2 separate regions of the Homo sapiens genome follow, and region 2 is reported to be linked to region 1. Evidence: microRNA targets listed by miRTarBase, many of them from high-throughput screens and not tested one by one. Region 1 holds a microRNA gene; the other region holds the end of a gene's coding sequence.
The links. Region 1 holds the annotated microRNA hsa-miR-7705 (AAUAGCUCAGAAUGUCAGUUCUG, at 1,634-1,656, opposite strand). A microRNA usually pairs through its seed, bases 2 to 8, with sites in the 3' UTR of a target mRNA and lowers its output. Matches are read on the target gene's strand: a 7mer-m8 pairs with bases 2 to 8, a 7mer-A1 pairs with bases 2 to 7 and ends in A, and an 8mer does both.

Region 1 (3,152 bases):
TTTGGGGGTTACAAATAAATTTTAGTGAGTAGGCAAATTTGTAAATACGGAATCTGCAAATGAGAATCAACTGTTTCCTTAATTCCTGCAAGAATCCAAATGCCTACTCCCCAAATCTGTTGGCTCTGGCCACTTAAAGTTTGCTCTATCTGAAAAAGCAGACATTTCAGGAACAGATGAATATGACTTATCTTCGAATCTCACAACAAATACTGACTTCCAATCAATCAGCTACCTAACGTATAAAGCTATGAACCCAACCTGGCACTAGATTTTGGTGTGTGAACTAGTGTGTGAACTTTATAGATTTGACTTCAAGTGTCTCAAAATAGCCGGCTCTTTTAAAACCTCAAAATTTGAACCATTTTGTATTACAATTTTGAAAAAATATGGTGTTTCTCTGCCTTAACACAATGAAGAAAATCTTTCAAAAAAAAAAATTGTAATGAAGCATCAGCCCCTGAGAGGGTATGTCTGTTGTGAGGCAAAATACAAAATGATCAGGATCCCCACTGGATGCACTGTTCTATGCTAAAGGGTAGGAGGGTGGAGTTTGTATTATCTTGAGTTTCAAAACAAGAAGCCAAAGCGAAAAGCATTCTAGGTACAGAAGCATCACTAGGCTTCATCAGCATTGAGGGCTGCCACTGTCACAAGCTAGGGTTTTGTTTAGATTTATTTAATCCCGAAGGTTAATAGAATTGTTTGTTTAGCATGGAATGAGATAACCACACGTTTAACTTAGAAAGCTAACTCTAGCAGTAGTCCACAGAGAATGATCGGTTAGAAATTAAAACCTAAAAGTGTAAACTGCCTGGGTTATCAGTTTTATGCAGATACCCTATACTCCAGGCTAGATCTTCTAAATCCATCCTCCTAAAAGAACCCCACATCTTCACCTTTAACAAGTACTTTGGGTATTACACTAAAATTAAGCCACAATCATGAACTACCAAATTAAAGACGTTACAAGAATAAGGTTTAAAACTAATCATAACTTTTAACACTTTAATATTAAAATCATACCAAAGCCTATCTTATCTACATCCTCTTCAAGAGTAGCTATCATTGTTTTATATCATGTAAGGGTTTAAGCTAATAATCTCATAGCCTAGAAACCTCAATATAATCATCAACTGGCAGGCCAGGCATGGTGGCTTATGCAGGAATAAGCCTTATGCTTATGCTTGAGCCCAGGAATTCGAGACCAGCCTGGACAAAATAGGGAGACCCAACCTCTACCCGCAAAAAAAAAAACCCCATAAACTGGCTTATCTTCAAAAGTGGATGGGTGTCAGTCTTGTACATGAAATATTAAGATCATGTAACAAATACATGTAACAAATTGTTTCAATAATCCGTATGGAAACCTTAACTCATAAAATGCACTACAGGAATTGTCTTGTGCCTTTTACATAAAACCAATAGACCCCCTGAACTTAACAGTACATTTTTCATAAAAGATTCTTATGTCGGCTCAGCACCATTAAGATATTACCTATTTATGCATGGCAATTATAAAGACTTTGAAAAAAAGCAAATCCGTGCACTGTTTAAGGAATTTTTATTAAAGCAAGAATTTTATAATCCAAATTACGTTTCCTTGCTCAGTTATCAATTCTGTTACTTAAAACAGAACTGACATTCTGAGCTATTCCACAGTAAAGAATTACAAAATTAAAGAAAGGAATGCTTTAAATTTTTGTACTTTGCTGAAAATTCTTTTTCCCAGGGTCTATAAAACATTAATTTGTTTTTATATTTTACTATTTTTTTGTGTTTTTTTGTTTTTAAATCAATAAGTAATCTAGGACTAGCATTATGTTTGCTAGACCTGGCATTTGCTCGGTACATAAGGTTCAAAGTTTCCTTTCCTTTTTTTATTTATTTTATATTTTGCAATGTTTTTTTTCCATAATATTTAAGTTTTTCGATGTTTAGATATTTTTCTTCGGTGAAGCACAAGTTTCTTTTCATGGTCCCTGATCAATCTGTAAATGTTAAAAAAACAAATTAAGACCAGGACTATCACTTGTCAGTAGCAAATTAAAGCCCTTAGCCAAATGCAATGTGGTTGTTTTTATCCATAGTTTTACTGGAACACAGCCATACCTGTTCATTTGTATACATACTATCTATGGTTGTCTTGACATGGTAACACTGGAACAAGATCATTTCAGAGATAACACAGTCCTCAAAGCCCAAAATATTTCCTATCTGGCCCTTTACAAAAAACATTTGCCAATCCCTGGTCCTGATCCTGGCTGCACTACTCAATTTCTTGGGAGTGATGAAAGACAGTAGTAGAGACCCAAGGGCACCACCCAAAAAGGAAAGGTAAAACTATGAAAGCCAACCTGTGACAGGTCATTTTATATATATATTACTATACAAAATCTGGCAGGGCGCAGTGGCTCACGCCTGTAATTTCAAGACTTTGGGAGGCCGAGGTGGGCGGATCACTTGAGGTCAGAAGTTCCAGACCAGCCTGGCCAACATGGCAAAACCCCAAGTCTAGTAAAAATACAAAAATTAGCTGGGCACGGTGGCAGGCATGGGCCTGTTAATCCCAGCTGCTCGGGAGGCCGAGGCAGGAGAATTGCTTGAACCTGGGAGGTGGAGGTTGCAGTGAGCCGAGATCGCGTCAATGCACTCCAGGTTGGGCGACAGAACGAAACTCCATCTCAAAAAAAAAAAAAAAAAAAAACACCACCTGAAAGTCCTGGGATTTTAAAAATCCAACAGTTAACGGGTAAAATTCCTTTAATTCCTCTATAGTTAGTTCCACTTTTCCTTGAAAAATTAGCAATACATTTAAATGAACTGTAAAATGATCTTTTGCTATGTACATTTCAAAATATGCTCAACAAACTTTATAAAAGATGAAGAAAACAAGCTTAAAACAACAAACCAGAGGGAAAAGCTCACTTTAAACAGTTGGAACACCGGTGGCACTGTTAACTGCTTTCTGGGCAGCCTCTTTAGCTTGGTGGGCTTGTAGTACAGCTACAGCTTCATCAACCTAAAAAAGGGGAAAACAGATAAACTGGTTCAGGAAAGGAATGGAAATAAAGAGTTTCATAATGGTAACATACCAATTCCCAACAAAGATAAGTTTCTTCCCTCAAATGAAAGTATAAATTGTTACACTA
Region 2 (3,000 bases), not on the chromosome of region 1:
AATTAGCTCTTCAATAAAAAGAGGATTATAGCAGTAGCTATTGCTGATGGTAGTTAAAGGGAATTAAATGTGTGTTAACATATGTAAAGGGCACATGGTAACAATGCCTGGCTCACAGTAAGCCCTTGATAATATAAGCTGTTATTATTAAGGTATGTGTTTGCTATATAAATGAGACAATGCATATTTATACTTGGATTTCTTGAAGACCTATGTAGAAAATATTTCCATGATAAGTAATTATAAGAGCTATTTCTTTATCTTTCTGCCCTTGTTCATATATCCATGTTTTGTTTATTTTTTTGTAGTGATCGAACTGTGAGAATTTGGAAGGCTCGCAATTTGCAAGATGGTCAGATCTCTGACACAGGAGATCTGGGGGAAGATATTGCCAGTAATTAAACATGAATGAAGATAGGTTGTAAACTGAATGCTGTGATAATACTCTGTATTCTTTATGGAAAATGTTGTCCTGTACTTACTAGGCAAAACGTATGAATCGGATTAACTGGAAAATATATCTGAATTCAACTGCTGACTATAAATGGTATTCTAATAAAATTGTGTACTATCCTGTGTGCTTAGTTTTAAGATCAACCAATAGATATATATCCTACAATTGATATATTGCTTTATTCACACTTTTATTGTGGCTGAATTTTTGTGCCTATCTATAAAACACACTTTCAAATTATTTGAATTACCAAGACGTCTGCTTTTGTGACAGTCAGAAAACACACCTGGAATACGATGCAGCCCACCATTAACTCATTCATGTAGTTTATTCAAGTGATTTATGTATTTAAACTAAATATTGAAAATGTTAGTCAAATTGTGGTTTGCTTGTCAGGTATTTATATCAGTCTGTAGTGGATTCCCAAATTTCAAAGCTCTTTTAATGTAATGGACAAAAATAAGATATGAGAATATTATTGATGAATTTTCATAAGGTGGAATTGATCTTAATCTACTAACAGAGAAGGGTAGACAGTTTGTGTTAAATGTTGGCATTTACTTGTATTGACCAAAGTTTTGCAGCTCTACTATATTCTGTGCTCAGGACTAAAATGCTGTTAATTTTTTTTTTTTTTTCCAGTGCTGTGCATATATTCTGTGATGGGAAACATTGTTGATGTCCTAACAGAAATATATTTTGATCTATTTTCCTATGGAGTTGTTTCTATTATGACCATTTAATTTTGTTTTTATTTAATAGTAGTATTTCCTTCCCTTTTATCTAATTTTTTATATGCTGCTAAATATATTTTAAATATACTATGTTTGCGAACCTTGGTAGCTATGATGAGAGCTATTATCATCTGTGGTGGGAAAAGCTATGTAAATAGGTAGATTGTATAGAGAGACTATCTTGTGTTGTGCCTGTATGAATTTTTAAAAGTTGTTGACTGGATTTTGCAAAAGGATGTATAATATTTCTGTCTGCTCAGAATATTAATTTGTAAATTCTGCAAGTTTAATTTTTATGTAGATGGTATAACATTTGAAAATATTGTCTTATGTGATTTTTTCCCCTGAAAATATTTGCTTGTAAATGAAAACTTAGCTAGGGCTTAAATAAACATGTTGCTATGAAATTATTTTTACTGTATTGTTCTTTTTCCAAATTGCAAGAGAATGGCCAGTGTTTGTAAAACTTTGTTTTATTTTTGTGTGATGGAAGAAAAGACATATTTTTGGTTATCTGGCAATCCATATGCCTTCCTTTCTTTGCTTACTAGACGTGAAATATTCTTGAGGATTTTAAACAGTAACCTAATCTTGATGAACCATGGAAACTCACTACTTAAAGCAATTAAGTTCAACTGTGTAATTTAGGAATTTGAACATGGATGATAAAACAAAACAAAAAAAATTCCTATAAACATTAAGACAGTGGTGACCTTGTTTTCTAGAGAAGAGAAGGGGTGGCTTGTGACTGGCAGGTGTCACAGCAGGTGAGTTGGGAGGGTTGGGAGGGTGCTTCTGGGGTCCTAGCAATGTTGTAATTTTTGACCTGGGTCCTAAACTTAAGCATTCACCTTCTACATACATGTTGAACTGTATGTATATTTCTCTATCCTCTTTTATGTATGTGCATATGTTCTAAGTTTCATAGCAAAATAATCTTTGAAAAAAGTTTTAAGGAAGAGATTTTCCTATAAGGACAAAACTCAGCTCCTTTGTAATTTTTCCTCCTTCCCTGAAAGAAGGTACCATGCCAAGATCTGAAAGAGACTTCAAGACTATTTTAATTTCAAGTCTCTTGCAGTGTTTCTTTTTTGCAGGTTTACAGCTCAATAATTCATTAGCTTGATAATTGACTTATTCAATAGATGTTTAATGAGCATACACATTGCCAAGTATTGGGGGTGAAAAAATAACAAAACCGAGATGACACTTGCCCTCTGAGTAGAGTGAGATAATAAAACCAGCATTTACATAATAGCTTGGTAAGTGCTCAGATAAAGTCCAGGGTGCTTTAGCACCTATTAGACATATCCAAACTTAACTGCAAATCCAATGAGAGGTCCTGAGCACTGTGTTTGGTTGTGCAAAATACAAAGTTCAGTGTCTAATTTTACCTTTTAAAATGCTGGAGGCTCAGCTAGTGTGGATCTGATTGAAGAAATTCAAAAGCATATGTAAAAGAGGCAGCCTTCTTTAAAAAAATTACATTTTGAAACATGTTAACCCCTAAAGATCCCATTCAGAAATGTTAAAATAACTCTTAAAGCAGTTGAGATAGTGCCTGTAAGATTTAAAATGGATTACTCCACACTGTGTATTAAATATATGTTCTGTTCCCCCATACACACAGAATAGCCTCTTCTTTTTTTAGAAGATATGTTTCTGGTTTTAAATCCAAATCTCTAAAAGTTTGCTAAGAAATAATTACAAGATTTTTCATATTAATTCAGCTCTACCTTACAGCTTCACATTTATTATTTAACTCTCAGTTGATGTGGAGTCTTTCATAAAAATTTAAATTAAAATCATCAA

Region 2: the mRNA of KIF21A is a reported target of hsa-miR-7705. Seed matches in the 3' UTR shown: 7mer-m8 at 1,307-1,313.

The regions. Positions count from the first base shown.
Region 1 is chr8:100,701,369-100,704,520 of GRCh38, forward strand. It overlaps MIR7705 (microRNA 7705), which reads right to left and starts at 1,656; the gene lies at 1,600-1,656. PABPC1 (poly(A) binding protein cytoplasmic 1) reads right to left here. Exons shown (of 15, transcript NM_002568.4): 14 at 2,929-3,022; 15 at 1,548-1,991. The coding sequence ends at 2,930.
Region 2 is chr12:39,291,826-39,294,825 of GRCh38, reverse strand. KIF21A (kinesin family member 21A) reads left to right here. Exons shown (of 38, transcript NM_001173464.2): 38 at 309-1,598. The coding sequence ends at 402. Among named protein-coding and RNA genes, the nearest start is that of LINC02406, 150 kb to the right of the region's middle.